Regions from separate parts of the Homo sapiens genome. Here regions 1, 2, 3, 5 and 6 are each linked to region 4. Evidence: fine-mapped QTL for protein levels in blood plasma. Region 4 holds a variant in brackets. A gene starts in each other region. All regions are shown on their forward strands. Distances are between the middles of the regions.

Region 1 (5,146 bases), not on the chromosome of region 4:
TGGAGGAGTTGTTCCCAAGGCATAGGTGTGGGGAGTCATGGGAGGGCTTGATGAAGGACCCAGGATCTGAGACCAATTCAAAAGTTGTGCCATACCAGGTTAAGTCACTTGTTCTCTCTGGGCTTTTGGCTTAGATAAGACTGGGTTATACACATCTCTTTCCAGTTTCACCATTTTCTAATCTATTTGCAAGCCCCCTTGCCTGACACATACCCTCTTCCACTTCTATGCACACATGCCAGAAAATTCTCTAGCCTAGTCCATGCTGACCTTGTACCCAACTCATTTCTTCTTTTCCCAGCTCCTCACCTGATTGGGAAGTTGCTCTGGGTATGCACTCCCACAGCTTCCTGAATAACCCTCTGGCAGAGCACCTTATGGAAATCATGCTTAACTATCTCCTCCACTAGTAGGCCATAAGTCCAACTAGAGCAAAGGCCATGTCCCTCTTGTTCACTACTGCTTCTCCAGTGCCCAGTACAGAGTCAAACACATAGAAGATGTTCTATGAGTACTTACTCTTTGAATGAATACCCTACATCTATTTTATTTGTCATTTCAGAAAACACATGGTATTATCTCATGCTGCGTAACAAGTTAGTCCAAAACTTAGCAGCTTAAAACGAGAATAGTCACTTATCCTCTCTCAATTTCTGTGGGACAGAAAGTCAGACAGGGCACAGCAGGGCTGGTTGTTCTCTGCTCCATGTCTGGGACCTCAACTCTAAGACTTAAAGGCCGAGGGCTGGCAAGACCTGAAGTCTCGGTTTGCCATGATCTGGTGATTGACTCTGGCTGTTGGCTGAGAGCCCAGCAGCAGCTGTCAGCGAGAACACCCTCATGTGGCCTCACCATGTGGCTTGGGCTTCTTCACAACATGGTAGCTGGTTTCTTCTGAGGAACCAAGAAGAAGCTGTCTCCTTTTTATGGCCTGGTCTTAAGAGTCATACAGCTTCACTTTCATCACACTTTATTCATTAGACACCAGTCACCAAGTACATCCCACATTCAGGGGGAAAGGAATTAGATCCCATCTTTTGAAAAGAATGGTCAAGAGCTTGCAAGCCAATTTTAAAACCAGCACCACTTGGCTAACACAAGAAGCAATGTATAGAGTGAAAAACAAGTGTCTGAAGAAGTAAGACTTCTGTTCACATTCTAGCTCTGCCACTTACTAGCTGTGTGAGTTTGGGGAAATTACCCTCTGAGACTTGGTTTATACAATACAGGGTGATAGTTGTTGATCCCTAGTGATTTTTCTACGCTTGGAGTCTTCTTGCCTTAGTGAGTTTAAGAAGATCCAGGCTGAACTAACTTTCTTGGAGTCTTGCAATCCTTCCCATCACTGATAACCCTTGGTTTCTGACCCTGGAGGTAGTAAGAGGTTGCTACGGGAGCACAGGGTACCCAGAAAGTTCAGATACTAGGGACAGCTTTAGAGAACAGATGTGAAACCACTGAGGCCCTGGGGTCTCTCTAAGGCCTTTAACCCAGCCCTTGTGTAGTAACCTCAGCTTGTCAAGAAATGCAACGACCCCACAACTAAGGAATCTGAATCTGCCGGCTAAGGCCAAGGAATCTGCATTCTCCCACAAGACTGTGATTCATGCTAACTACAGGCAGGGGAGAGGGGGAGCATCTTAAAGCACACACTCGGCCGTCTCTTCCTAAAGTTCTTGGCTTCAGCCTAGAGATAGTGCCTTTCCCACCATTTACAACTCTATGGCATGAGGGAGGCGGAGGGTGCGTCCAGTGTCCAACCACGCACCACAGCTGGTTGTACTTTCACCTTCCTCTAGGCCAGCGGACCCTCCCCAAGCATTGCCTCCCACGCCCACGTCGCGGTCCCACCCTGGTCCGCGGGGTCCAGAGCGTCCAAAGCCCGGTCTAGGCAGATGGTCTAGGGGTGAGCTCTGCGCACCCCATTCCCACCAGTGCAGGCAATCGAATAAAACAGGGTGACTTTTAACCCTTTTCGTTTCCAGAGATAGTGACCCCCCGTCTCAATCCCTAGATGTCCTCCTCTAAGAACTGTGCGCGCTGGGAGGGACTCTGCGCTCACTCACTGTGACCACCTCGGCTGGGATATGGGGAAACTGAGGCCTACAGAGGGAAGGGAACTGCTGAACGTCCCAAAGCAACACAGGCACTGAATCCGGTCTAGAATCCCAGTCTTCCAGGCCAGTGCTCTCGGTCCTACCGGCTCAGGGCCCCTGCGAAGAATCTTTTTCAAGAAATTCCCGACCGCAGGAATTCCTTCTGCGCTAGGAATCTCCATGGAGTTTGCGCTCCCTCTGGCACGTTGAAAACGTCCTCCGCAGCTTCGCACCGGCTTCGCGGCGCCCTGACAGCTGGGTGAGGAGGGAGCGAATGCCCACCGGCGTCCTTGGGGTAACTTGGGACAGAGGCACCGCCGCGGGGGGCGGAGGACTGGGCGCGAAGGCGCTGGCCCTTTAAGGGGGGGACGGAGCGCATGCGCGGCGCGGGCCGTAGTCGAGCCTGGTGGGCGGCTGGCTGGCAGGGGACGTGGTCGGCGGCAGCGGGGCCCAGGGGCGGCGGGGCTGCAGCAGCGGCGGCCCCAGCTTCGCCGAGCAGCGATCGGCTGGTGGGCTTCTCGTTGGCGGGCTCCGCGTTGGCGGGCTGCTCCCCAGGCACCAGCGCAGCGCGCGCTCGCCCGGCTTCGTCACTCGCCTCCAGCTACATCCGCCGGCCGAGGCTGCGCGAGCCTCCGGGCTTGCGGTCCCCGCCCCGCGGTCCTTCCTCCACCCTCAGCCAGGGCAGCTGCAGCCCGAGCGAACAGCCACGGAGCATCCTCCGCCCGCCCGGGCCGCGCCACCGCCCATGCTGCAGCCAGTCCCAGGCAGCGACCCCGCGGCCGCAGCCCGCCGCTCAGTGACCTCAGCCTGGCCCCTGCGCGCCGCCCGAGCCGGTCCCGCTGAGCCGCGGGCCCCGTGCCCTGCGATGGCTCGGCTGGTGCAGCGCGGCGCCAGGTGCCAGCCGTCCTCCCGCTGAGACGCGCCCGAGTGGGGACCCGCTGGGCCTCGGGGCTCGCAGCCTTCGCCTCCCCGCCGCGCCCGCTCCCTTTCTGGGGACTCCGCCGCTGTTTCTGGGGACGAGGGGACAGGGGACCCAGACAAAGCCCACTTTGTGCAGGGAGTTGGCCGCAGGCGGGGAATGTGCGCGTCGGCGCGCGCCCCCTCCCCGCTCCCGGCCAGCTGCGAGTCTTGGCTCCCGGACTTGTCTCGTCGCGTCGGAGAAATCGCCCCCCAGCGCCGCTCTCCCGCCCGGGGGTCTTGGTTCCGAGCTCGCGCGGCCGGGAGTCGCCTCGGTCTTCCTTGGGGCGCGCGCAGATGTGAGCGTGCGAGAGTTGTGTAGGGGATTTTGTTCCCTCCGAAACTGAGACCCAGGGCGCCCAGTGGGCACCCGTGCCTTGACTCTGTCCTTTCTGCAGCCGCTGGTCCGAGCTGTCTGGCCTCAGTTTCCCTCCGACTTTTCTCCGCTCTGCCAGCCCTCACTGCTGCCCGTCATTGTTCTCGCAGTTAGATGGGGGTGCTTTGTGACGGCTGCCAAGTTGGGGTGTGTTCTCTTTATTCCGTTTTTCAAACAGAACAAGGCCTCCAAGGCTGACCCCAGACAACCCACCCCCTCGGACCCTAATTCACCTTATTGCACTGATTTTTTTTATCAAGTCGTATTTTATTGTACAGGAGCCACGCCCTGATTTCTTAAAGGCGCCTTGCACTCTGGCCATGTGTTATCTCTGCAGCCGGTGTGTGGGAGGCCTCTTGTGAGCCAGTTGTTTTCCCGCCTCCACCACCCCCCTCGAAGATTTAGGGATGCCAGGGGGGAAGAAGGTGGCTGGGGGTGGCAGCAGCGGTGCCACTCCAACGTCCGCTGCGGCCACCGCCCCCTCTGGGGTCAGGCGTTTGGAGACCAGCGAAGGAACCTCAGCCCAGAGAGATGAGGAGCCAGAAGAGGAAGGGGAAGAGGACCTGCGAGACGGAGGCGTCCCCTTCTTTGTCAACCGGGGTGGGCTACCTGTGGATGAGGCCACCTGGGAAAGGATGTGGAAACACGTGGCCAAGATCCACCCCGATGGAGAGAAGGTGGCGCAACGGATCCGTGGGGCCACAGACCTGCCCAAGGTGAGACACACGGGTCAGGGGGGTGATAGCACAGTCTAGGTTTTAGTGACCTTGGGGCCAAGAGTGAAGCCACACTCTCCTCCCACGGGGCAGGGGACCACTGGCTCGGTAAGATCTTTAAAATGCAGTGATATCATACCTGTCTAGGAGAACTTTCTCTCACTGCCATTCTAGGAGGGAGGCTCACATACATTGTCTCCAGGAGGCCCTCCCCGCTGTCTTTTAAAATGTCCACGTTTTACAGGAGGGGACAGCAGCAGATGGAACTAACAAACACAGTAGGATGGCTTGACGTCTCATTTGCTTGATGACACTTGCCAAGCCAGAGAACTGTGAGCAGACAAATGTAATGAATGACTAAGGAGATGCAGGGCTTCATATGTTGAGAAAATATTTTCGTGCATTATGTCATTGAATTCTCCCAACAGCCTTGTGACGTAAGTACAGTTTGGATTCCCATTTTACAGATGAGAAAGCTGAAAACTCAAGTAGGAACTCAAGATCCCACAGCCAGTAAGTGGCAGAACTGAGATTCAATTTCAGGTCTTCAGGAGAAGGGCGGGGGGTGGTGGTGGAGGGAAGTGTCCAGGTCCTCTTCTCTGTTGGACAGTAGATTCAAGCACATTAGAAGAGGTCTTATGGAGAAGCATAAAATGAAATAATTTTTCTGTGTTGGCTGTAACTCCTCCTCCATGACAGCTATACTTCAGTTGTGTCACCAACGAAAACAGAGGCTGTATCTCATTCATCTTTGTCTTCCCAAGGCCTCCTGTGTGCCTGGCACAGAACAGGCACTAGTGTGTGTGTTTGCTGAATGAAAGGGTATTTGAGAGTTTCTGTGCTGTACGCTGCTATATGGAAATACATGCCAGATATTAAAAAAAAAAAAAACATGATCAAGACTAGGAGGCACTTTGCCAAATGCAGAGGCCTGAAATCTCCAAAAAAGAGCCCTTTGGACTGAGTTCAGAGCCCAGTGCTTAGCCCTGCCTGCCCAGGTT
Region 2 (5,146 bases), 45 Mb before region 4:
GTGGGTGTATCACCTGAGGTCAGGAGTTTGAGACCAGCCTGGCCAACATGGTGAAACCCCGTCTCTACTAAAAATACAAAAATTAGCTGGGTGTGGTGGTGCACGCTTCTAATCCCAGCTACTCAGGAGGCTGAGGCAGGAGAATTGCTTGAACCCAGGAGGCGGAGGTTGCAGTGAGCCGAGATTGCACCATTGCACTCCAGCCTGGGCGACAAGAGCAACAAACTCCATCTCCAAAAACAAACAAACAAAAAATTAGCTAGGTGTGGTGGCATGCACCTGTAGTCCCACCTATGTCAGACCTCTTAGGGACCACAATTGGAGTCCCAATTGTGCAGAACAACATTGAGTCACAAATGTATATTCGTGGTAACCTTCCCTAGCCAGAGTCTTATGATTAAAACAAAAGGTAAACGTTTTAGGATGCAAGCAGCAAATCTCTAGCAAGTATTGGTGTGATTCAGTAGCCATTGTACTCTGAGAAAGAAGGTTGTCAGTGGGAAGGCAATTTGGGACTCACTGCAGCAAAACCTCCTAACTTGAATCTGCTGGGCACAAGTGAGCCTTAATCTTAATGTACAATAAAACAGCCAGGCCCACAAAGTCCTAGATTGTGGGTTTAAATAATCAGGCTCAGGGCCACCGAAACAGGATGATAGACATGTTTATGGATTCAGTATTGAGTTCTGGGAGCCAGCAGCCACGTCAGCAGAGGTGGAGTGTGCCCTACCTTTGGGCAGAATCCAAGGCTTTTAATTATAGATAAAGTCACCTGCTTCCTGATTTATGCAAAACACTTAGGGAATGCCAGTTATTGAGCCATCACAACAAGATAGCCATTTAAGACACCATTAAGATAAGGGAACAGCTTTCTGCCTCAAGGAAACAAAATATATTTCCCAAAGTTCCAAACTGGCACAGGCCTTTTTCCTATTCCCCTTGCCAAGGCCACCTGTCCTCTTCTCTGCACTGTTGAGTTGTTGAGTGTTCTCTACCTTCCTCCCTCCCCACTTGGTTTTCCACCCCCTCCCTGGAGCCAGAATCACTTAAGTGCCTCCCACAGGGCACCTGGCTTACATGGACACTTGAGTGGAAGTTTGTTAAGAATAGCTGTGGCGTTGCCCCTCTATTCCACGACTGTTCTCAGGCCTACTTGTGTATTTTTACCCAGTATCACTTATTTTTAAATGACAGAAGTTTGGAGCTTCTCAGGCAATGTGATTTTCCTGTGGCCTAAACTGCCTTAGGTAAAGCATCGAGACTAACCCAAAAGGCTATTGCTGGGTCTCTCGGCTCCCTTCCTTATTATCACCAGCAGCCGTACCTTTTCACACACCTCTGCATTTTGCCGTTCCACCCCACCGTCTCTACCAGGACTCAGTCCCATGTGAAGGTGGGTCCTGGGTATGGCAGAGCCTTCCTCATTACCCTCTGCCTCCTCGACCTGCTGTTCCCTCCCTCCTTTCCTGTAGGAGAGCTGCCGCTGTGGGGACAGGTGGGAGTAGGTCAGGAAGCTGGATGGAGGTACACATTTCAAAGTTTTATGTAAAAAATTTGAGTTGGTGGAATTACCAGAACTAGGAGTGAAGCCTTAGCAGGTAGGCCTTTCAGAAATAGTGAAAATGAGTCCCCAAATCTCAATGGTGAATTTTTCTGAGAAATGTTACAGAAACATAAAGTGACAAATTTTTGTCTTTATATTGATAAGATAGATAGATTAGTAGAAATTGAGAAGAGATTGTCCAGGTTTTTTCTGTTGCTTATTTGTATAAGCCCAGTACATTGACGGACTATATTGGGAGTCCCTAAGCAAATGCCTGCAGGGACCAGGCAGTTAATACAGCAAACTTCAGAGGCTCATCTGCTTTAGCCAGTTCTTGCCATGGTATGGTGGAATCATTGTTGCCACATCTGATTTCTCAAGAGAAGCTTTAAAATCCAATTTGTATGTGTGTATGTATGAGTATGTACATGAGAAAGCTTTCAGTTTTAAAATGTTGGCTCAGATTTTTAAAAAGCAGACCAAAGACTTATATTCCACCTCTGCTCTAGACTTAGAGAATCTGTTCAGGATAAAGCTTAAAGAAAAGATGACAATGGAAAAGAGTCATTGGTCAAGTATTAAGTACTGACACTTAGGGTTTCCTGAATATAGTAGTGAGTGCTACTTTAGAAGAGATTCCCTCTAGTTCAAATGCAGTTACAATCTCCAAATACATGCTAGCAACTCACGATTTAAATTCTCTTTGACATAATTTGTATGGTTCAATCTCCCTCATCCTGCTTTTCTTCTTTTTCTTTCTTTCCTTTCCTTTCTTCCTTTCCTTCTCTTTCCCCTCCCCTCCCCTCTTTTTGTTTTTAACAGATGGGGTTTTACTATGTTGCCCAAGCTGGAGTGCAGTGGCAATTCAGAGTGCAGTGGCAATTCACAGTGTGATCATAGCTCACTGCAATCTTGAATTCCTGGCCTGAAGCTATCCTCCAGCCGTAGCCTCCCAAGTAGGTGGGAATACAGGCATGCACCACTGTGCTCAGCTCTGCCCTCCCTTTTTAAAGGTCAGACTGAAGTTTCAGTTTTCTGTATCCATAGAGCTGACTTTGCTCAGGAAATTTACAACTTACCTAATTTGAACGCAGCTGGCCAAGTCTGTATTTCCCTCCAGGAATGTGCACAGTTGTGTTCAGACCGTTTAGCAGGTTGGGGTGTGGAGGAAGACAGATGAATAGTAGGGGCTTTACTCCAGCCTCTAGCTGGGGATTTTCTAAGATACTGTCTTCAGAAAAGGAAACATAGCTCGAAGTTGTACCTACATGGAAGGACCTCATCCTCCAGGTGGCAAAAATTTGTAGTATGCCTGTTAGAATGAGGTTCCTTCCTGAAACTTCTGGGAGATCTAGAATTTAAAGCTATGTCATTCTCTTGTAGGTAATCAGAAATCAATTGGAAATTCCTGCTTGAAGAGATAGATATTCTTGCCCCACCTCAATCCTTCCAGCACAGATTTGGGAGATACCCCCCTTTCCAGTGAAGGCCTAAGTGTCCAGTGCCCCCACTCACCTTCTGAGGCATGTAGGGCCGCACAGACAGCCAAGGCCACGATGGCGAGTCCTCTCTGCTGCATTCCTGCCTGCCCTACTGGCACTGACAGCAACACAAGTGAGGCTGTTCGATCAGGAAATGAGGCTAAAGGTGTCCTTGGGCACAGAGAAAGTGCAGAGGAAAAGTAAGCCAGGTGGCCCCGCCCTGGGAGGTGTTCAGGGTATCTATTTCTCATGTTTCTTTCCTTAAGACCAGGCTCCTCCTCGACTTATTAAGCTCCTAACTTGTGTTCATCCTGCCTGGGGGTCAGGGGATGTCAATGGAGATCTGGCAGCTGGCAGGGTCACTGTGAGGTGGGGTGTGCATCAGAATCATTTGGGGAACATTAAAAAAAATCAATCTAAATGACTCTCCCCTTTCCCTGATTTGTAAACCAGAACTCCCAGGTAGGAGACCAGTCATTTGAATTTTGTAAAAGCTCTATAGGTGATTCTGATGGACACTTATGTTGAGACCCATTGCATAATCAGTTTTTAAGTAGCTTATGGAAACCATGAGTTTCTGGGGACAAGGGTGACAAGTCATAAAAAATGTATCTTTGTGGAAAGATATGGAAGTATTAAACCCCACTTTAGTCTTGGTTCACAGCCAAATTGTTTCCAGTGAAGCTTTTTACAATAGCTTATTTAGGAGAAAGACAGGAAGGGGGGCAATGCCTTGTAGAAAAGAGCCCAAGAGCAGGTGTGAAGAGGCATGAGCGCTAGTGCAGCTTTGCTGCCAATCAGCTTTGTGAATAAAAGCATGGGGTAGCATGAAGATAATTGGATTCTAATTGTTCCTCATCTACTAATAAGTTGTATAACCTCAGGCAACGTACTTAACTTTGCTGTAAATAACAAGTCAGACTAGATGACCTCCAAAGTCATGCCATGCTTCCTCTAGAACTGTGTTGTCCTATGTGGTAGCCGCTAGCCCACATGTGGCTCTTGAGCACTTGAAATATGAGTAGTCCAAACTCAGATGTACTATGGGTATAAAATTCACACTGGATTTCAAAGACTGGGTACAGAAAAAAATATAAAATATCTTGTTAATAATGTTTATACTGTTTATTGATTACATGATAGTATTTTGGACTTTTTGGGTTAAATAAAATATATTATTAAAATTAATTTCACCCATTTCTTTTTATGTTTTCAAATTACTGCTGTGGTTTGAATATTTTTTTCTTCTCCAAAGCTCATGTTGAAAATTAATCCCTAATAGTGCTGGGAGATAGGGCCTAATGGACAATGTTTAGGTTATGATGGCTCCACCCTCATGAATGGATGAATGCTACTATAAAAAGGGCTTGTGGGAATGGGTTGGTACCTTCTGCTCTTCTGCCAGGTGAGTACACAATGCTCCTTCTCTCCAAAAGATGCAGCAAAGTGGCATCATCTTGGAAATAGAAACTGAAATCACTGGAGCCTTGATCTTGGACTTCCCAGCCTCCATAATTGTAAGAGAATACATTTCTGTTATTTATAAATTGCTCAGTCTCGGGTTGTGGTGTTATGATATATATATTGGCTTTTATCCATGGTTCCTGGCTTATAACTCCCATAACCCTTGTTACAGTTTTTTTTTGTTGTTTGTTTGTTTGTTTTTTTTTTGAGACAGAGTCTCGCTTTGTTGCCCAGGCTGGAGTGAGTTTCACCATCTTGGCAAGATGCTGGTCTTGAACTCCTGACCTTGTGATCCACCCGCCTTGGCCTCCCAAAGTGCTGGGATTACAGACATGAGCCACTGTGCCCAGCCCAGTCTTTTTTTTATATTATAATGTTGGGGCACTTTAGGCTTCAGGAACAGGCCTCAGGAAACGGAATCTCTCTCTGACCTTCTGTTTTTCTTTCACCTGCCCAAGGCAGGACTCTAATCTGATTGTGGGTCATAAGATCCTCATTCCAGAAAGGGTTCTGTCCCATACTCTAGAGGAAGGAATGCTACACAGGCCAAGAAAAGCCTGAACAGGCAGGACTTGCTGGGTTTAGATTATGTGCTTTTTGTCTAATCACATTTCTACATGGTTGTTAATCATGCCTATGTAATGAAGCCTTTGTAAAA
Region 3 (5,146 bases), not on the chromosome of region 4:
GCAGACCAGTCTAATCACCTCATTTTACAGGGGGCAGGCTGAGGCCCAGGCCTCTCTGGTGCCCACAAGATACATTCATCCTGCTCATCTGGCATTCAGAATCCTTGGCAAAGAGAACCACCCACATTTCCTGCTCCGCCCACAGCCTATCCTCCTCCTTTTCCCAGACTATTGGTCTTTGCTCACACTGTTCCTCTGCCACAAATGCCCTTTCATGCCTTTCCCCCTCTTCTATGTGGGATGAATTTTAAAAATTAGCTGGGCGTGGTGGTGTGTGCCTGTAGTCCTAGCCTCTTGGGAGGCTGAGATGGAAGGATTGCTTGAGCCAGGAGTTTGAGGCCATGGTAAGCTGTGATCATGCGACTGCACTCCAGCCTGTGGGACACAGCAAGACCCTGTCTCCAAAAAAAATAAAATAAAATAAAAACAAGTGTGACACACAGTTTATACACCACTTCCCTAAGAAGTCTTCCAGAGCTTCCCCCATCCTAGTGGCAGCAAAGTGGAGGGAAGGGGCTTCAGCATCAGGCAGAATTCCACTTTAGTCTGAATGCCTTTACTAGGCCAAGGTGCCTTCACCTCCCTGAGCTTCAGCTTCCTCTGTCGAATCAGAGTGTACCTATCTTGCACAGTGGTCACCTGGCAGTAGTGGGAGCCCCACGTCTGACATGCAACAGGTGTTCAGCAAATGCTGGGGCCCTCGTCACGGGATGTTTACTCTTTCCTCGGCTGTAGCTGTAAACTTCCCTAGCACTGTACCGGACTGCCCTTTGATCTCTAGATCACCCCCACTCCCTTGCAGAGAGGAAGACAGAGGCAGGCGGGTATGTCTGGAGGTGGACCCAGGCACTAAGGGCTTGAAGGGGCAGGACCCACACATCCCTTCCATAGGGCCAAGGGCTAGTGAGCGCATGTGCCAGACAGTAAATCCAAGCATGGAGGAACTCACCTGTACCATTCCTCCTAGCCTACAGTAGGGCAGGGAGAAAGGAGGGCATTAGCACAAAGCAGGCCATTCATTGGAGCTGGTGACCGCCATTCAGGCAGGCCCTGAAAATCAGAGGTGGCCTAGGTGTGCCCTGCATGAAGGGGAGGTCCCAAGGGACGCGTGAATTTTGAAGTATTCAGAATTGGTCTTAGAGGGCGCCTGACCCTCGTTCTGGATAATAACATGGCATCTCGCCCAGGTAGAGAAAGCCTAGGACCTTGAAATATGTCCTCCGAAGTGAGCTCTGTTTGCCTCTCCTGCTGTGTAGCATTGACAAGTCGCTTTCTTCTGTGCCTTGATTTTCTTTTTTCTTTTTTTGAGACAGAATCTTGCTCTGTCGCTTAGGCTGGAGTGCAGTGGCACAATCTCGGCTCACTGCAACCTCTGCCTCCAGGTTCAAGTGATTCTACTGCCTCAGCCTCCCAAGTAGCTGGGATTACAGGTGCATGCCACTTGCCCGACTAATTTTTGTATTTTTAGTAGAGACGGGGTTTTTGCCGTGTTGGCCAGGCTGGTCTCGAACTCCTGACCTTGGGTGATCCACCTGCCTTGGCATCCCAAAGTGCTGGGATTACAGGCATGAGCCACCGCACCTGGCCCGTGCCTTGGTTTTCTGATGTGTAAAATGGGACCACTTCTCAGGGGTGTGGGGATGAAATGAAATGACACATGGAAAAGACTCTCAGTGTGGAGACTGGGCCTTTCCTTAGATGGGGGCTGGGGGGTGTCACAGAGGACCTGAACCGGGGCTCTTCTGGGTTAACAGGCTGAAACCACCTCCCCAGAATCCCACATTATAGTGGTTAAAAGCAGGGTCTGGACTCAGAAGGTGCTGGGTATGAATCACAGCTTTACTACTTATCAGCTGTTGTCCTCATCTGTAAAATGGGGCAATAGTCATGGTCTCATGTGCTTGTTATGGGCATTATATGCCTGGTACATGGCAAGTACAAAATAAATGATTTGTTATTGTTTTTATTTGACAGGACTCCAGACCCCATCCTCCCAACTCCACCCACTTTAGTCTCCATGGAGACCCAAGGGCGGCTTTAGGGCCTCTGGCACTGAAGATGGAATAGCTTTGCCTTGTGGATCTGACCTCCTGGGTACCCTGGCTGATTCCTTGTTTGGTCTTGGACATGTCAGCTCTCTCTGGGCCTCAATTTCCCCCTTTTGCTGAATGACAGCCTGGACTCCATATTCCCTATTTAGGACTCCAGCGCTCCTAAAGGCAGACTCTCAGGGCTTGGAAGGTAGAAGCATGCTACAAGAAGGCAATGTCTGTTCAAAGGTGTGTGGGCTGGGGGAGGCGTGCTGTGTGATTGATTCTGCTCCACCTGAGATGGTCCCGGCACTCCAACACAGGGTCAAGGTGCTGCCAGTCACTCAGTCCCTGCTCTGAGGTGGCTCAGACCAGGTGTCCCGAAAGCAGCCTAGGGACGGCGGCCAAGCTTAAACACTGACGCGAGAAAGGGGTGGAGTCGAGGGAGGGGACGTGGTCTCAGGAACAAAGAGGAGGGCGGAGAGGGGCTGTCCTGAAGGCTCTGAGACTCCTACGACCCCAGGAAACTTACCTCGGCTCGGGGCGCCCCCCCCGACTTGGCGCAGAGCCTGCGTCCCCCTGCCGATGCCCACCCGACTCGCTAAAGCCACCGAGGCAGACGACCCCAAGACTCCCAATTTCCGACCTCCCTGGCCCGCGAGGGGCGGGGCCTTCCTCTCGGGGCGTGGCCGTCAAATTGAATTTTCCCAATGGGGCACGAGAGTGGGAGGTACCCAATCGAGGGTTGGCTGGCGCGTCGGGGCAGGGCGGGGCCAGCCGGGCTGCTGGCGCGGCTGGACGGGCAGCTCTCCGCAGAATCCAGGGGACGGTTGCTGAGCGGGCCTGGGACAGCGGGTCGCGGCACCTCCGGCCTGCGCGTGTCTAATCCGTCTGTCGGGTCCCGAAAGAGCTAAGCCGAGCCTGCGCCGGACGGGTGGGCTGGACTGAGAGGTGGGTGTGCGGACCTCGGGGGGGATCCTGGTGCTGCCCCAACGTGTCCGGGGGTGGAACCCGGATGTCTAGACAGGAGTTCTGGAACGTCCAGACCTGGGAGCCCCCACCCATACGAGAGGTCTAAGCCATGGGATAAAGTTATGAGACTGTTGGGGGAAGACGCCCCCGGATTCCTAAGAGACTCCACGCCCCACAGGGGCGCTAGTCTGTGGCGGCAGAAACCCTGGGGAAGCTGCCACAGAATCCTGAGGCCCCTCACAATGTCCGGCGACCCCAGACTGTGTGACAGGGAGATTGGAGAAGAGCAGCGGCAGGGATCTTCTTATAATCCCATGGGTGTCCTAGATTAGGCATTAGGGTCAGCTGCCCCATAGAAGAACAGACATGGGGGGAATCAGAATGTCCGCAGAACCTAAGGCTGGTGACCACTGGACAGTCTTGAAGAGGTTTAACCCAGACAGAGTAACTAGGTAAGAGGCAAGGATCCTAACAGGCAGAGATTGGGAGGTTGACACCTCTGAGCCTACCAGGATGGGAGGGGGAACAAGCAGTGACTTGAACAGGCTGGGACCCACACACCCCAACTGTGTGGAGCGGTAACCCTCACCCCCCACCCATGCACCGTATGGGGTGACTTCCCAAGTGACTGTTCTGAAGAGAGGGAAGGGATGATTGAAAGATGAATCAACAGGAGGTGGGGGGCAGGCCTGGGGCCACACATTAGTCAGTCACCATACATTAACTAAGCATCCACAGTGTGCCAGACCAGGGCCCCTCAAATTCCAGACAGACATTAGTTGGGGCTACAGGAGGAAGGAGAGATCTGCGCTGGGAGGCTGGGCCAGGATTTAGGGGTCCATTTTGATGGGCAGCACTGGGGCAAGATGGGGCTCTTGCCTCTGTCACTGAGAGTGTTCCAGGCCCTTGAGGGCACTTTGGAAGGGAGCTTCGGAAGCCGGAGATGACGAAGATTTTGATTACATCCTTCTCTGCCCTCTAAGTCTTTGGCTTCCTCCTTGCTCAGTGACAAATCCTTGGCCCTCTCCAATCTTCTCAGTTTGCCTGAAATCCAGGGGTTGGGCAGGTCAGCTTCTGAAAGCCCTTCCAGGTGGGGAATTGAATTCTGTATGAATTGGCAGGAGGTGCTGGGTGCCTGGACACCTGGCTTCAGGAGGTCTGGACAGCAGAGCTGGCTCCAAGAATCGGAAGACACAGTGTACCTTCCTATACCTGGGGGAATGACAGTGGTGGTGGCAGCAAGAACTACGGGTTCAGCCCACAGCCAGAAGCTGAGCCTGCGGAGTGGGTGGGGGCTGGGTAGGCCCTGTGGATGGGTGGGTGGGGCAGGAAACTGGAGACTGGAGTGCACCCCCTGGTGGTAAGCACAGCTTGGGTGGGTCTTGCCAGGCCCTGGCTTCTCAATCCAGGTCCCTGCCCTCCCTGTTTTGAGGTTTAGACAGGATGAGAGTCCATCCCAGGCCACACAGCAGACTGGCGGCCAAGCTGGCAGGGCTGGAACCAGAGACCCCCTACCCTGGGTTTGGTGAGTTTTCCAGCAAACCACCCTAGGGCAGAGGGCAGCTTCCAGCCAGGAGCCACATTATAGGATGGGACAGTAATGGACGCTCCTAGGTTAGAGAGGGAAAGTAAGGCACAGAGCCTAAGTGCCTGTGGTTTCTGGAAGCCCCAGCATGCCTGATTCATGTCTGTCCCCTGCAGAATTCTCTGAGCTGGTGACAGGTGCCACAGGCACTGGGGATCTCACCAGAAAGGAACCGACGGAGCTAGGGGCCAGCGAGATGGCGGACGAGGCCTTAGCTGGGCTGGATGAGGGAGCCCTTCGGAAGCTGGTAAGTGGCCCCATCACCCACTGTGGGGACAGGAAAGCCAAGCCAGAGAGGCAGGGTCAATCCAGGGTACCTCTCAGCTGACAGGAAGAAGTGATGGGGGAAAGGTCAGGAGGAGGGGGACATGGGAACAGGGGTAGGCCAGTTCCATGTGGCTGATGCAGAGGCCCTTGTGGCATGTGCCTGTCCATGCCTGGTACTGAAGCCTAGTCCCTCCCAACCCTCCACAGCCACCACCTGTTTAAACAGTAACTGCTGTAGACTCGCCCGTATGCAGCCACAGGTGTGGGGAGGCTGGATATGCCTCTCCAGAGC
Region 4 (4,985 bases):
TGTGCGCGCGCGCGAGGGGAGCGCGCGCGAGGGGGGGGGCGCGGGGCCGCGCATTCGCGCGCGCCGAGGCCGCTCGGAAGAGGAGGAGGAGGAGGAAGAAGGAGGAGGAAGAGAAGGAGGAGGAGGAGGAGGAGGAGAAAGTGGCTCTCAGCGGCCGGTCGGATTAAAAGTAACCAGACTCGTCCAGAAAACTGCGTCCAGGAAGGAAGTGACAGAAGACGAATGGGAAAAGGAGAACAGCTCACAGCGTTTGAAACATCGCGTAAAAAAGACTGGGGGTGGTGGGGGCGGGGGGGATTGAAGGATACTGGGAGGGGAGGCGGGGGTGGTAGGGAAGACGGAGCACGAATGGTTGGGGTTCTAAGCAGCACGTCCGATGAAATGTCTTTTGCCTCCTTTTTTCCCCCTTTATTTAATTTTGTCCTTGCCTTTGCTTCGCGCTGCCTTTTTCTCTCCGTCTCTCTCTCCCCCACAATCCCAAACCGTTGACTCTTTCCTCGCGAGCTGGAGAAATCATCAGTTTCACTCTTGCAAAAGGGGGGCGGGACTAGACCTCGGAGCATTTTAATAAAACAAACATACAGCAGCTCCCTCCTCACCCCTCCAGTCTCAACTAGATTGATAAATTACTCCACTACACTACTTTAATTATGTATATGGTATGCAGAATAAATCACTGAACATCAGTACCTCAATCAAGCACTTTTAAATGATAATTGCATCTTGGTGAATCAATCTTTCCATTCCTGACATTTTGCTAATTTTAGTTTTACGGTGGGGTAATAGCACATGCCATACGCAAACCTAATGACAATTCTTTATTGCACGAAATGAAGACAACACGGCGAGCTGCGGCTCCCTGCTCCTCTCGCGGCGCCTCTGCGGAGGACGCTCGGAGAGAACCTAGTCTCCCGCTGCGGCGCGCTCGCTTGCTCTCCGGGGACGCTGCGAGCCAGCCAGCAGGAAAGTCCTTCTAAAGTCGGGATCTTTCCTCTGACCAATAGGAGCGCGACCCTAATAGTTGCTCTTGTGACTTTTCCCCCTTTTGGACACGCGTTAGCCACTTCTCTCTTCCACCGGTCGGTGCGCTCCTCCGTTACTCACGCGTAAAAACCACGGTCCAGGATGTCTGCAGCACTCGATTCCAGCGTGCTT[T/C]TCCTGCACGCCCAGAAGTCGCGGTTTTCACCCTGAGAGGTTGGAGCGCTAGAAAGCGAGCCGAAAGGTTTCTCTAATGTTAGTAATGTACGAAATAATAAAATAATTACCAGTATTTGAGATCTCGACTTCATCGCGGGGCCATGAACTTTCTAATCAGTTTGGAAATATTTACCGAGGAAGCAGCTTCCTCGGAGTTCCCCCCCTCCCCCCACTCTATCTTTTCCACACCTTACTGGACTTCATCCAGGTCATTAACATGTAAACCAAACCAACTTCCCAAATGCATTAGGCTACCCTAGCCGATAGCTGATGACTTCACTTATCCTGAAGAGTTTCAGCTGCACAGGAAGCAGAAATAGAGACTGATAAGGGAGGATACTTATGTTAAGGTTAAAGCATGATAAACACTTTTCCTTACAAAAAAAAAAAAAAAAGGCTTTAATATTTAGGCTACTAGAGATTGGGCACCTCCCGCCCTAACCAACTGTTAATATATACCATGCCCAATAAAGCCAAAGATAAAATACATCAACTAGTATAGAATCATGAAAAGACAAGATTGCATGCCAGTAGAATTATAGATTACATAAAATGTTTAAACCAAACTATTTTTTAAAAAATATTGTGAAAGCAAGAAGGGAAAATTAATAGAACATGGAATATATGAGATTAGACAATAGTATATTGAAATATCTAGCTAACTAAAGATTTCCTCACTTTAGAAAATTCCTTTTAGCACTACGTTTAACCCAATGACTAGTTGTATTTCCTGTTAAGTTCAGCAATATGCCTCCAGATGACTATTTTAATATATGAGGACAGTATGGTTCAAAAAGCCTCCTGCTTCAATGTAGGAGGTATTTGATGTGAGTAGCTTCTCTCAGAAGAGTGGCCTCAACATTTAGGCAACTGTCCCAAGGCTTCACTTGAAAGGGGAAGGTTTATTTTATAGGCAAGTACAACTAGATCTGAACAATCTTCAAGTTCCAGCTCATCATTGTGACTATCAGCAAAACTAAGACCATTCCCTCCCTTTTATTATAGGAATGCATCACAAACTGTCACAAAGCAAAAACCATCTGAAATAGTAGTATTTCTTGCAGATTAGTATTTACAATGTATTTTGTTTGCCGGTTTTTCAAATGTTGAGTTTGCCATTACCATGAATTCATTTTAATAATATGGCAGAGAACATCTGTATCAGGTTTCCATTCAAAGTACAACTTCTCTGAAAATCCAAAAATTTAAAGGGCAAAGATATTTCGAATACTAAGATATGTCTATATATGGTGGTAAAAATAAAATTAATTTTCTTCAAGATTCACGAAGGTCCTGAAAAAGCAAAGCATTTGAAGGACCATCTAAGTTTATTGCCATAATACCTAAAATTAATGCAGTGAGTTACAACAGTCTATTTGACATGAGCAAACACATAGCCAATACATGAATTTCAGCCCTGCTGTTTTTAATGAATTATAGAGGGTATTTCTGTTTACCACAGTACACTTCAGTTTTAGATGTTCTTTCAAAAAGAAATTATTTTATTTTACCTTTTCATATTTTAAATAATTATTTAATAATACCCATTATAACAAACCCATAATTATTAATGATACTGCAAGCATTCAAAAATAAGTATAACCCCACACTGGATAATTTGAAAATAATTTGGATCTGGAATGTATCACAGTTGGCCTTTTAAAATACAGGATTTTCCCCTCAGCAGATTTAGCTTCTTAATTATGTGTGACCTAAGTTAATATTACCATTAGTTTTCTTCCCATGAGCCTTTACAGTTGAAGCAGAAGAGATATGAAGAAATATACATTAGAAAATCACCTGAGATTTAAAATTATTCATGAGTAATCCACAAAGTAGTTAATCCAGAGTGTGCTTTGTATTCTTTAAATACTTCTGGACTTTTGGTTTCTGTTTCTGTTTTTGTTTTTTCTTTAAAATCATCCTGATCCTTGCCATCTAATGATACTTGGTTAGGATCAGACTATTTTCTCATGTAGGGAGGAGCTTGTACTAGGTGTCAGGAGACCTGGATTCTCTATCTAGTTCAAAATTTGTGCCTTACTAAGGGATTTGTCCTTTCTAGGCTTCAGTTCGCTTATGTGTTAAATGAGTTCTGTAACCTATTCCAGTTCTATCATTGGAAAACAGAAAATGTTTCTACCCTTTAAACCAATTGGAAGGTAGGGTCTATCCAGTTAAATAATAGGTGACAATTCCTTTAAAAGAAAATTATGTCTGGGATTGATGTACTACTGTACCAGCTTTTATTTTTTTCTAATCACCAAATATTTCTCCTACATTAAGTTGTAAATGCTTTATTGTTAATGTAAATATAGAGTCACTTGTTTTTCCCTCAAAAGAATTATGTTTAGCAATATATTTAATTAAAGTGTCATAGAAGTTACAGAGAGCATGCTCCTCGGGATTTTAACTCCAGGGAAAGCTAATATTGCAATTTCTGTTCAGAGCTGCATACCATCTTACTCCAACCTCCTCTCTTCACTACTTCCCTACATTAAAGCAGCGGTCCACTAAAGCCCTGTGCACTGGGTCTGCCTGCTTTTAAGCCTGGCCCACGCTGGGTGTAGCTCTTGAAGTGAGCTTTAAAAATTATTTTAAAGTGAACTGGGGCGGTTGCCACAGCAACCCACCCTGAGATGAAGAAAGGCTATAGATTAATGTACCCCTTAAGATTATTCAACTGTATAGTATTTGTTCCTCAGCCAGAATACTTTTAACACAAACATGATAAGTGAACATGGTGGTTTAGAAAAATCTAAAAAGCAGTGAAACACAAATTCCAATAGCATTACATATTTTAATCTTTGTCTAATTATAGTATTGATGATACACAGGACTTCCCATGAAATAGATTAATTTTATAAGATACAGTACTTGCAAAAGTAGGCCCTGAAAGATGACATGATCTTTAAGCAAAATGATATGTCATTGCTTATAATATAAAGTGTATGGTGGTCATTTAACTCTTTATTATTGTTATACACGTCTATTCTGTAAATACCTAAGGCCAAGGAGTTTGGCAGTTTTACCTTTATGGTAACTCTGTGGTAAATGATAAAAACAAATGTGAGCACTCACCACATACACTTCTTTACTGCCACAATCATTTGCCTTCCGTTCTTTACTTCATCTCTTCATAGAAGTTACTTCACAGTTTGCAACTCTTCTTTGGCACCTTCAAATGTGGAAGTGCAAAACAGTATATAGTATTTTGTTAATGCTGATATGAAAATACTTTCAAATAGATTTATTTCTAAAACTTCTAATCTGAAGTAACAATATTCTGATTTTAAACCAAAGTGTTTTGAATATAAGACAACTGAAATTGTCATGCATTGTGATAATAATCTTTAACATAAATAGTGCCAAATATCTAAATTTCAAAAATTCACTAGGTGCAGCATTAACCCAAGAAGAATATACAGCATGTGGAATGTCTGTGATTGAGAATTTGCAATATACAAAGGATTTGTTATTTCAAGACAAGGTTTACACATATCTAAGGATTCTATGTTTATCTGTATTTCTGTACCTTCAGTTTTATATCTGATAGAGAATTACAGAAGAATGTCAAATCCATTATATCCGAAGCTAACACAATTTGTCAAATCGGGAAATGTTTGCAATGCAGTTGAGGTTACTGAAAGGGCTTATTTTATGCATTGCCTAAAGGCCAATTTAAAATACTTTGGGATTAGTGATGTGTATTCAGTACGGTTTATAAATTCTATTACCAATAATACCTTATTTTTCCAAGCAGTGTTTAACTATACTGAGCACAGACA
Region 5 (5,146 bases), not on the chromosome of region 4:
GCTCGAGACAATTGGATTTCCTAAAAATGATGGTGGAGTTCAATGGCTTCCAGCTCTGCAGGCTCTTGTTACACTTAACATTGAGAGGCTTTGGCAGGTCAAGCTGGCTTGGAAATGTCTGGTCCTGACTCTGTGCCTTGTCTGAGGTTAAGAGACTTTAGTTTCAGCCTCAGATCTACTACTCATACGTGTGCTCTGAAACCATCTAGCATCTCTGAGATGTGTTCCACCTATTTCATAACACTGTCTGCCTTGTAGTCATGAGATGCTCTACAGCACAGAGCCCGTTCATACTTAGTGTTCATCAAAAGCCAAGTGAGCCTAGATTGGCCCCTAACACCTTGGGTTATTTATTAATGACACCTGTCAACAATGCTGGCCTCCTAGGATTTATTTTTTGCTTTGTTTGTTTGCTTGTTTTGTTTTGTTTTTTGAGACAGTCTTGCTCTGTCACCCAGGTTGCAGTGCAGTGGCGCGATCTCGGCTCACTGCAACCTCTGCCTCCAGGGTTCACGCCATTCTCCTGCCTCAGCCTCCCGAGTACCTGGGACTACAGGTGCCCGCCACCATGCCTGGCTAATTTTTTATATTTTTAGTAGAGACGGGGTTTCACTGTGTTAGCCAGGGTGGTCTCGATCTCCTGACCTTGTGATCTGCCCGCCTCGGCCTCCCAGAGTGCTGGGATTACAGGTGTGAGCCACCGTGCCCAGCCTGGGATTTGTTTTTAAGCATCAATAAATTAATGAGAAGAAAATGACTGACATTTATTGGGCAGTCCTTACATGCCCCCCACATACCCTGCCCTTTAATTTTACATATATGATTTTAGTAATCCTCATGTATCAATTAGTATACAACTTGACTCCAACAAAAGAAAATTCAGACTAACTACAGTTTAAACAATAAAATATTAAATTATTTCATGTAATGAGAAGTCTGAATGGTGGCTCCAACAACAACATGAAGTCCCAACGACTCAGACCTTTTTTTTGCTTCCACTCTGCCATCCTCAATTTGTTGACTTTTTATTCTCAGCCTCATATACCCAAAATGGCTGCTGCAGCTCCAACCATCACATTTGCACACAAGGAAAGAAAAGAATGAGTAGATGGTCATTCTCTTCCTGAGGAAGGGAATCTTTTCTAGAAGACCCTAGCAGGTTTCCCTTATGTCTCATTGGCCGGAATTGGATCAGAGGCACATCCCCAGGTCAGTAAATGGAGAAATCATGAGCACCATCTCTTCTGGGGTCATGTCTATAGGGATCATAAACCTCTTCCATGAACACAAGCCTGCTGCTACCTCCAAGCAGCCACACATGCTTCAGCATCCCTTGTTAATAAGCTACAGGAAAAGAGAAGAGAAGGAGTAACTGTCATTTAAACCTCAGTGTCGAGTATTCCTACTGAGACCTGGAGATGCTGAGAACTTGCCAAGGTGTGAGAGGAGTTGCAAGGAGGCCATTGTGGTTGGGCATGGTGCACGAAAGGGAGAGAGGAAGAAGTGTACAGGGAGCTGGCTGGCCCAGGGGCCACGCCAGGACTGGGGACTCTGTGCTGTGTGATGGGCAGGCTTTGGACAGTTGTATCCAGAAGATGATCTATACATGACGCTAGTTCAAGGATTGCTCTGAGATGTGTGGATGGTAGAAGGTGGGCAGGGAGGCTGGGTATCAGTCAGGAGGCTGTGGCAGCGGTCCCCATGGGGAGCACAGGGCTGGACTAGGACAGCCCATAGAAGACATCCCATCTCCTTTCTTGCCCAAGGAAGAGACTCAGTGGCAGCAGTGCAATAAGGGTACAGGCCAGGAAACCCAACCCCCCAGGGATAGCAAGCATCCAGAGACACGTGGGGACAGCTCCAGCACCAAACGGCTTCTGACCAATGAGCAGAGACGGCAAACAGCAAATGCGTTACCGTGGCTTTCACGTGTCATGAAGGTGATGCTGTAACCTGAGCCTCAGAGCTCATTTTATTTGTGAATTCCTATCATCTCTAGATGGGTGGACTGAAAGCCACCTCTTTCGCTTGCAGCTAGGTAGAGGGGAGTGCAAGAGGGCAAATGAAAACCAGAAGTAGGGTTGGGCGCAATGCCTCACGCCTGTAATCCCAGCACTTTGGGAGGCTGATGTGGGCGGATTACCTGAGGTCAGGAGTTTGAGACCAGCCTGGCCAACATGGTGAAACCTCGTCTCTACTAAAAATACAAAAATCAGCTGGGTGTGGTGGCACATGCCTGTAATCTCAGCTATTCAGGAGGCTGAGGCAGGAGAATTGCTTGAGCCTGGGAGACAGAGGTTGCAGTGAGCAGAGATCGCGCCACTGCACTCCAGCCTGGCCGACAGAGCGAGACTCTGTCTCAAAAAAAAAAAAAAAAAAAAAAAAAAAGAAAAGAAAAGAAAAAGAAAAAGAAAAGGAAAAAGAAAACCAGAAGTAGGAGCAGCCTGAAGAAATGACAGGGAGTTGATTTCCCACTGGGAGCCCTCTCAAAGCCCACACACCCGCCTGCCTGGGGTAACAGTATCTCCTCGGACATCCTGCACCCTCCCATGCTCCCCCCTCCCTACAGTAGTGAAAGACCTAGGCAGGATGACCCCAGCTCCTCTGTGAGAATTTCACACCCTAGTGTGAAGTCATAGCCTTGTAACTTTCCCTTTAAGAACTGTCAGAGCTGGGGAGGCTGGCCAAGCTCAGGCTGGAGGTGGGGACAGAGGGAAGAAAGAAAAAAAAAAAAGAGAGAGAGGCAGGAAAAGTTTTTTCAGAGGAAAATGCAGGGTTTGTCCTTCACCCTGACGTCAGATCTTGCTTTAATAAAACCCCCCAAGGGCTGCGGAAGAGGCATATCTGGTGCTCCTGATGGGCCGGCCAGTCTGGGCCCAGCTCCCCCGAGAGGTGGTCGGATCCTCTGGGCTGCTCGGTCGATGCCTGTGCCACTGACGTCCAGGCATGAGGTGGTTCCTGCCCTGGACGCTGGCAGCAGTGACAGCAGCAGCCGCCAGCACCGTCCTGGCCACGGTGAGTCCTGCCTGGAGGGGCTCAGAGGGAGACCCAGCTCCCTTCTCTACTGGGTCCTGCTACATGGGGGCTGGTGGGCAGGATGAAAAGGGCCAGGAAGGTTTGGGGCTGGAAGGTGGCCACTTACAGGGCAAGGACAGAGCCCAGGGTGAGGAGTCAGCTGCCCAGGTTGGCTGAAGCTGGCAGGGTGAGGAGGACGGTGCGACACTTGGGGAAACAAACTGCACAGGTCCAGCCTGCCCTCTCTCCCCACCTGAAACAGTGCAGAAAGAACGGGGCCCTCAGCAGAACTGGGAGTCAGGGGCCCGGGCTCCAGACCCGTCTTCGCCTAACCTGGCTGTGTGGCCTCGGGTGGGTCACTCACCCTCCAGGAGCAGCGTAAAGCGACGAAGTTGTTAGGTGACTTCTAGAGTCTCTGAGTTTGAAAACTCCAAGACTCCAAGCATTGGAGATGCTGCGAAGATGGGAGATGGAAAAAGCCAAAAAAAATTGGAAAGAAAAATGCCAGCTTTCAACAAAAGCTCCTTATTGAGCAAACAGTGCTCAGGGTGATGTCTAACCCCAACTGCTGTCACCTCCGGTCTGCACAGCCCTCTGCAGTCTGCAGAGTGTCCATACTTGGGTCCTGCCTATGAAGCCTGCTGTTCCAGGGTGGGGGTGATGTGGGCACCCCAGAGTCTCTCTCTCTTCCACCTGCACCCCAGGGTACACCAAGGGGAAGGGACAAAGGTCTGCACCTCCAAAAGCCAGGGGAGTCACATATGTGACCGTGTAGAGCCAGCCTGCTAGGGCCAGGCATGGTGAGGAAAAGGCAGAGGCAGGCAGTGCAAGGAGGGCAGGAGGTGGGTACCTGGCAGCTTCTGAGCCCCAGATTCCACAGCCCAGGGCAGGACCTGCTCCTGGCAGAACAGCCTAGAGACGGAGGGGTGATGGCAAAAGAGTGTTTATCCCCAAATGACACTGATGGCTTCCTTGGGGGTTAAGAAGCCCCCTTCACAGATAAGGAAACCGTGTGTTGGGGTTAAACCACTTGCCAGAATCAGACTCTAGGTCTGCTTCAGCCAGAACTGAGGCCGAGAGCCGACAGCAAACTGAGACCTGGGAAATAGGAATTCCTCTCAATGCCTCGGTGTGTGTAATGATGGCGGGGAGTGGGTCTGTTTCATCTTGGTTAAATCCTCACGCCTGGCATGGTGCCTGACTATAGTTGGTTCAGAACCACCTTACCAGAAAGTTATCAGCTCCATTTCACAAATGAAAGAAATGGAAAGTGAGAGCAAGTAAAGGACTTGCCCAGGAGCTCCTCATTAATAAGTGGCCAGGGCCCAAACTTAGATCTTCTGATGCCAATTTCTAACCATTCCTACTTAGGGGAAGCTGACTGTGTCCTACAGGAGTGCCCAGAAGGAGCTAAGTCGCTGTTTATTTCGGCTCTGGGTATGGCTGCGCCTTTATTTGGGTATAGCTTTGCAGGTTGCTATGTCTGGGAGGGCAGGGAGAGGATGGAGAAAAGGTGAGCGTTTGAGAGAAGCCAAAGTCTGAGTGGGCAGAGGAGGCGAGAGGTTTAAGCATGAGTCCAAGTACTCTGGAGCCCCAGTCAGCTCCCAGAACAGCCGGTGCTGAGGAGGAGTGAAGGACAGAGCCGAGGACTCAGCCAGAGGAGACCAGCAAAGGAGCAGAGCGTGTGGAGGGACCCAGGGAGCAGGTTGGAGGGAAGGCTCCCGGGACCAGCACAAGGTACCTCTCTTCTAGGCAGCCCCTGCCTGGGGAACCCAGACCACCCACCCCATGCTTGTTTCATGATTTAGATGCTTCTGGGACAGAGGTGTGCACGGCACTGGAGTTCTCAGGATGTCCTGAAAGCCCCGCCCCCTGTGTGGGCTGTGAGACTGATAGAAACGAGCTGGACTCCATTTGGAAACCAGCCTTGTTTCATAGCCAAATTCCATACATGGTCATCCTCCCGAATTAATATGCAAAGGGAGCACATGTCCAACCAGGGTCTCAGTGAGATCTTAATGGAAAAAATTGTTGTAAATGTTCATATTGAAGAAAATGCATGTGAGAATTGCCAAGAAAACTTTGAGGAAGTAGAGTTACAAGGGGGACTTCTCTGGGAGATATGAAAGCA
Region 6 (5,146 bases), not on the chromosome of region 4:
GCTGCATTGCAGGTCAATGTGGAAGGGACCCAGGCACCTTGCTCACCACATACTCCCTAAAGCCTAGAGCGGTGTTGGCAAGGAGTATGCGCGCAATAAGCAGTTTTCCAAGGACTCTGGTTTTGCTCAGTTGTGGGAGGGCATGGAACATGGTGAGTTTGGGACAATCTGCACCAGTTGCTGTTGTCTGAATCTGGGCAGGGTGGTCCTGGCGGCAGGCGTGTGGTCCGGATGCCATGGGGAGGCAGGCAGTGCACACTGGGCTCCAAGCATGGAGACCTGGGTCCAAATCCGGACCCTGTCACGGATGAACTGGGTAAGTCCCCTACCCTCTGTGGCCCCTGATTTCCTCATCTGTGGATGGGAGAGATGCCAGTATTCCCTACCGGTGCATGAGAACTGATGCACGTGTGGGTGAAGAGTGTGAGGCAAAAGCCTTAAGATGTGGCTGATATTCTTAGCTTGGCAACACAGTTCGAATCCTGATTGGTACTGCCGGGCCATTCTGCCATAGTCCCTGGCTGACACATCAGGCCGCCAAGTTTGGGGACTTCTCTCTGAGTTTCCTGGTGGGATAGAAACTCATCTCTCCACCCAACTCAAGGCTCAGATGAGGGTGGAAACTCACATTTGACAGCTTTCCAAGCCACCGCACCACTTGCTCTCCAAGAGAGGATAAAGTGCATCTGTCATGGCTGCTTGAGCTGCAAGACTGAGCCATCTTACCATTGCTGAGAAGTCAACTTTTGGGGGACCTTGGGGTGGTCACTTGAGTGTCAGCTCTTAAGGCGCCAGTTGTGTTAATTCAGGGCAAAGTTTAGATGCTGGCTGTGAGTTACAGGAGGGCTTGCTGACTGGCACGGATGTGCACATGGGACTGTCAGAAAGGAACTCCACTTGTGCTTGGGGAAAAAGAAGCTGGAACCAGAAAGCCTCCACTCTCTTCTGATAACCAGGCCATGGCCTGTGTCAGCACCCCTAGTCTTCAGGGGTGAAGCTGGCCTTGCTGGTAGGGGCGGGGGCACTCCAAGGACCAAGCACAGCTGGGGCTGGCGCGGAGTCTGGGGTTTGATGGAATTTCTCACTCATTGAAGTCCACAGGGAAAGTAAAGGGCCAGTGGCTGCAGGTTAACCAACGCACAGACACGCACACAGGCACACACACAAACACACACATGCACACAACTCACACACATTTTTGCCTGATCACATATGCCTTATACAAGTTGTAAAACAAAATAAAATCAACAAGGAAACAGGTCAGAACTAACATTTGCTTTACTGAATGTATCTCAAGCACCTCCCCACGTCTGTGTGTGAAGAGCTTCTCATTCTTTTCCTGCGAAATATTTGATATCTATGCAAGCGCATGTGGCAGATATGGAGACTAAAAGCCTCATCACCAAGTTAGCAACAGCGACCTATCACCCAGCTCCGGAGCCTGCCATGGCTATCCTGGCAAACCTAACCTCGGACGCCTCTCTCACCTCCTGTTTCCAGAATGGTGAGAATTAAAGAGCATTTGGGGAATTTCACGCCCAGTCTGGAGATGTAACTGGAGAGGGGAGTCCCAGCCCTGTCTGGCATCTCTGGCTAAATTGTTTGTTCAAAGGGAATGGGGATGGCCCAGGGTTTGCAAATCGTTCTTAATTCATTCTGATTCCCTCCTTTTAAAAAACTAGCCCTGCAGCCCTTGGGGAAGGGGTGTGGGTCAGGCTTCAGGAGGCTGTGCAGGGAGGCCAGGCCTGGGGAAGCTGGAGGGAGAGACGCCCACCTACCACCCAGAGACTGGCGGGCCTCCTGCTGGAGGAGACCCCGAGGGGCTTAAAGAAGCCAGGCAGGAGAATCAGGGCCCCAGCTCTTCTCCGAGAGCAGCCGATCAGGAATGCCTTCTCCCTGCGCCAGCTGTCACTCCCAAGGGGATGCCTTCTTTGGTTTCCTTTTTATTGCAGAGGGGCCACCAGGGAGTGGGCAGGAGTGAGGGGTGAGAGCCTGGGGGCCGCAGAGCCAAACTTCGCCTGATTAATAACCCAGATGTTCCCGTCCAAGCACATGGAGGTCCCGGGAGCTCTTGGGAAGTCAGACCCCAGCTCGGTCCCGTGCCAATCTGCAGTTAGGAGGCAGGTCCTCGGTCCGGGTTGACACGTAGGCCACAGTCTTGGGCGCCCTGATCTGGCTGGATGGGAAGTTTAGTCTCCACCCAGAAGAGGAGCTCTGAACTCCTCCACGTTAAAGAAAAAGTTAGGCGGGGTAAACTGCAACTTTCTTTTTAACCCGAAGTGATCAAACCTCGGGGCCCCTCTGCACTGGTTCTTGGAGCATGGCCAGGTGCGGGCACCTGGGGTGGGAACAGTGGGGGGACCAGGGTGGGCCCCTGGGCTCCGAGGCCGCCCCAGGCCCGCCCGCCTACCGGCTCTCAGAGAAAGAACAGGGGGCCGCGCCCGCCCCACGTCCGCTCCGCCCCGGGCCAGCCCCTTCCTCGCTGCGACTCGCCCGCTGTCCCCACCCCCTCGCCCGCGGCGCCCAGTGGGAGGCGGGGGCTGGCCTCGCCGAGCCCAGCGCCGGGCTCTGATTTGCTGCGGGCGTTGGGGATCGACAGCCTCCGCGGCTGCCTTCCAGGAGAGAGGGAGGGAGGAAAAGGGGGAAAAAAGTGCTCCGCGCCGAAGGCGAGGTCCGCACTCTCCGTCCCCGCGGCTGGCGCAGGACCTCACTCGAGCGGAGCGCCCACGGGGAGCGGGTCGCGGGGCGGCGGCGGCGAGGAGGAGGCGAGAAGGAGTTGGAGGAGGAGGAGGAGGAGGCGAGGGCGAGCTAGCCCAGCGGGGTCCCGGCCGCCCCGCGGGCCAAAGTCGAGCCCTCCCGCCCGTGGGCGAGCGCGCCAGCCGCCCCTTCCAGAACAGCCGCCGCCACAAAGAAGAACGGGGGGTGCCGAGGTCCCCATGACCTCCTAAAGTGGTGCGGTCCCTGCTGAGTGCGCTGCCCGGGCCGTGACCCGCGCCCCTGTGCGTCCCCGCGCGCCTCCGAGCGCCCCTGTGCGCCCCGGCCCGCGCCCCGCCGGCATGGACGTCCATACCCGCTGGAAAGCGCGCAGCGCGCTCCGCCCGGGCGCCCCGCTGCTGCCCCCGCTGCTGCTGCTGCTGCTGTGGGCGCCGCCTCCGAGCCGCGCAGGTAAGGGCGCCCCGGGGCGCGGGGCTGCGGGATGGGGCGCGCGCAGCCCGGGCGCCGCTGTCATCCCCGGGCGCCTTCGCCCGCAGAACTTTTCTTCCTTGGCCTGTGGAATGCACGGGCCAAGACCACGAATGCCATTTGCTGGGGGCCCCCCCGAGATGACGACACGCAGACACAATGCCCGCGGGCGCGCCGCCGCCCCCTCCCCAGACGGGCGGGTCGGGTGGGGCTGTCGCGCGAGCCGAGGAAGGACCGAGGGCTGGATCAGCAGGAGGGGTTGTCCACGAGGCGGGCAAACTTTTGTCCCAAAAACCTTCCTTCTCTGTCCCACATCACAGGCGCCCAGCTTGGGCCCTCACAGCCCTACAGCAGAACTTCCTCTGCTCCAAACCGGGCAGGGCCGCCCCCTAGAGTTACAGCCCTTCAAATCCCGGGACTCCTGGGGATGGGGGGAATCCCAGAAGCCTGGGCCCCCAGCACTGAACTTCCCCCAGGCACTGTCACTCTAGGCTGAGCTGGCGCCCTGCTTTCCCCAGGGACAGCGTTTCCTGCAGCCTTGGTCACCTAAGTGTTCGGGGGCACTGGGGACCCCTGCAGGGTGGTAGACAGCCCTGCTCCTAATCCCACCCCCAAACTTCTTGATCCCTGGAAGGCAGCTTTTCCTGGATTCGCTGCTGAGAGATGGGATGCGTGGAGCAAAGCCAGAGATGGGCTTGCAGGCGGGGCTGTGAGTGGTTGGGATGATATGCAGATGTGGGATTCCTTCTGCCAAGGGTCAGCCCTTAGAAGGAGGCTTGCTTCCCGGGGAGGGCGCTTCAAGGCGGGGACTGTCTGCGTCCCTGCCTGGGTTCTCGAGGGTTCAACTCTCCCTGGCGCAGCTTCCTGACGGGGGAGTTTTTCTAGGCATCGCTCTTGGTAGTTAGTGGCGGGGTGGGTTTTCACAGACTCTCGAACATCAGAGCCCCCAGCCCTGGAAGGTCCCCCGAATCCTTATTGACAGGCGGGGAGATGGAGGCTCAGAGCTGTGTGCTGCCAGGTCAGGAGAAGTGGCGGGCAGAGCGATGGGACGGTGGGCTCAGCGAACGTCTGGACCAGCCCGCCGCCTGCCAGCAAGAATGCTTCTCTCTGCTTCACGATTGGAAGACAAGTGGGAAGAATCATTGTCCGTGTTCCGCTTGTCAATTAAAACACTCTTTTCCTTTTTCCCTGGCACGATCAGTGCTTGTTGGGCTAACTGGATGAGCTGGAGTCTGGGTGTGGGGGCTGCCCTGGGGCTCTGGGGGAGGAGCCAGGAGCCTGGCCTGGCTCCCAGGACCTGGGATCTCATCCCTGGGCCGCCACCAACTCTCTCCTGACCCTGGGCTAACTGGGCTTGTGTTTCTCCAGGGGTTAGCTGAAGGTGGGGGACAACAGAGGTCCCCAGAAAAGTGGAGAGGAGAAGGAAGGTGTGGTCAGGGACTGTGCCATTGCCGGGGGACTAGGCCCTGTCTCAGCGCCTCTGGGGACTTTTCCCCAGAAACTCAGGAGGGAGTCCTTCAGGGGAATCGTCACCCTAGACAGCTGGGGCAGGGCACTGCCTGGGGACCATGCACCGGACTGGGCTTGGGGTTCCATTTCCCTCCCTGCCCATCTCCCCACCTCCACACTGTCTTTTTCCCTCTCTGGTTGCCCTCGCTAATCGAAGTGCGGCTCGTTGGAAGTGGGAGTGAGGATGGCCCAGAGCAGCAGGCTATGGAGTTGGACATTTTGCTTTTGTCAGAACAGACTTTTAGAAGCATGTGGAGAGACCACTTTTCTTAGTGAGTTTTGCCAACGTCTCTCCACCTCCCAGGGTGGGACCTATTTGGAAGTCATCCTTCGAGCATGGCCAGAGGGGGCGGCTGTCCACTGGAGATGCAGGCGCTGGGGGGAGGGGGCGGCTGTCCACTGGAGATGCAGGCGTGGCGGGGAGGGGGCGGCTGTCCACTGGAGATGCAGGCGC

Alleles and levels. Alleles are on the strand shown, and positions count from the first base shown. The strength of an association depends on the size of the effect and on how common the allele is.
For the plasma level of the protein whose gene starts at base 2,483 in region 1, T is the low allele of the variant in region 4 and C is the other (weak association).
In carriers of allele T in region 4, the plasma level of the protein whose gene starts at base 3,197 in region 2 tends to be lower than with C alone (weak association).
For the plasma level of the protein whose gene starts at base 2,843 in region 3, T is the low allele of the variant in region 4 and C is the other (weak association).
In carriers of allele T in region 4, the plasma level of the protein whose gene starts at base 2,841 in region 5 tends to be lower than with C alone (weak association).
In carriers of allele T in region 4, the plasma level of the protein whose gene starts at base 2,672 in region 6 tends to be lower than with C alone (weak association).

What was found. PIP is the chance, under the fine-mapping model, that this variant and not a neighbour inherited with it causes the effect. The UK Biobank Pharma Proteomics Project read protein levels with antibody pairs (Olink). The fine-mapping took linkage between variants from a reference panel, not from the people measured, so its PIPs are less certain.
Region 1: it holds the start of VASH1, and the variant in region 4 is fine-mapped to the plasma level of the VASH1 protein (UK Biobank, PIP above 0.99).
Region 2: CCL28 starts here. The variant in region 4 is fine-mapped to the plasma level of the CCL28 protein (UK Biobank, PIP above 0.99).
Region 3: SMTN starts here. The variant in region 4 is fine-mapped to the plasma level of the SMTN protein (UK Biobank, PIP above 0.99).
Region 5: it holds the start of CCN4, and the variant in region 4 is fine-mapped to the plasma level of the CCN4 protein (UK Biobank, PIP above 0.99).
Region 6: it holds the start of COL5A1, and the variant in region 4 is fine-mapped to the plasma level of the COL5A1 protein (UK Biobank, PIP above 0.99).

Annotation. Positions count from the first base shown.
Region 1 is chr14:76,758,986-76,764,131 of GRCh38, forward strand. VASH1 (vasohibin 1) reads left to right here and starts at 2,483. Exons shown (of 7, transcript NM_014909.5): 1 at 2,483-4,145. The coding sequence starts at 3,837. RefSeq lists silencers at 2,450-2,639, 2,740-3,009.
Region 2 is chr5:43,409,195-43,414,340 of GRCh38, forward strand. It overlaps CCL28 (C-C motif chemokine ligand 28), which reads right to left and starts at 3,197. Exons shown (of 3, transcript NM_148672.3): 1 at 3,059-3,197. The coding sequence starts at 3,122.
Region 3 is chr22:31,078,476-31,083,621 of GRCh38, forward strand. SMTN (smoothelin) reads left to right here and starts at 2,843. Exons shown (of 21, transcript NM_134269.3): 1 at 2,843-2,981; 2 at 4,704-4,834. The coding sequence starts at 4,784. RefSeq lists a silencer at 2,725-2,884.
Region 4 is chr5:88,883,224-88,888,208 of GRCh38, forward strand. It overlaps MEF2C-AS1 (MEF2C antisense RNA 1), which reads left to right and starts at 107. Exons shown (of 10, transcript NR_136219.1): 1 at 107-262. It also overlaps a transcript of MEF2C not described here. RefSeq lists an enhancer at 1,019-1,068. The variant T/C (reference allele first, on the strand shown) is at 1,156.
Region 5 is chr8:133,188,199-133,193,344 of GRCh38, forward strand. CCN4 (cellular communication network factor 4) reads left to right here and starts at 2,841. Exons shown (of 5, transcript NM_003882.4): 1 at 2,841-3,015. The coding sequence starts at 2,947. RefSeq lists a silencer at 3,713-3,960.
Region 6 is chr9:134,639,132-134,644,277 of GRCh38, forward strand. It overlaps COL5A1 (collagen type V alpha 1 chain), which reads left to right and starts at 2,672. Exons shown (of 66, transcript NM_000093.5): 1 at 2,672-3,165. The coding sequence starts at 3,057. RefSeq lists an enhancer at 3,651-4,357.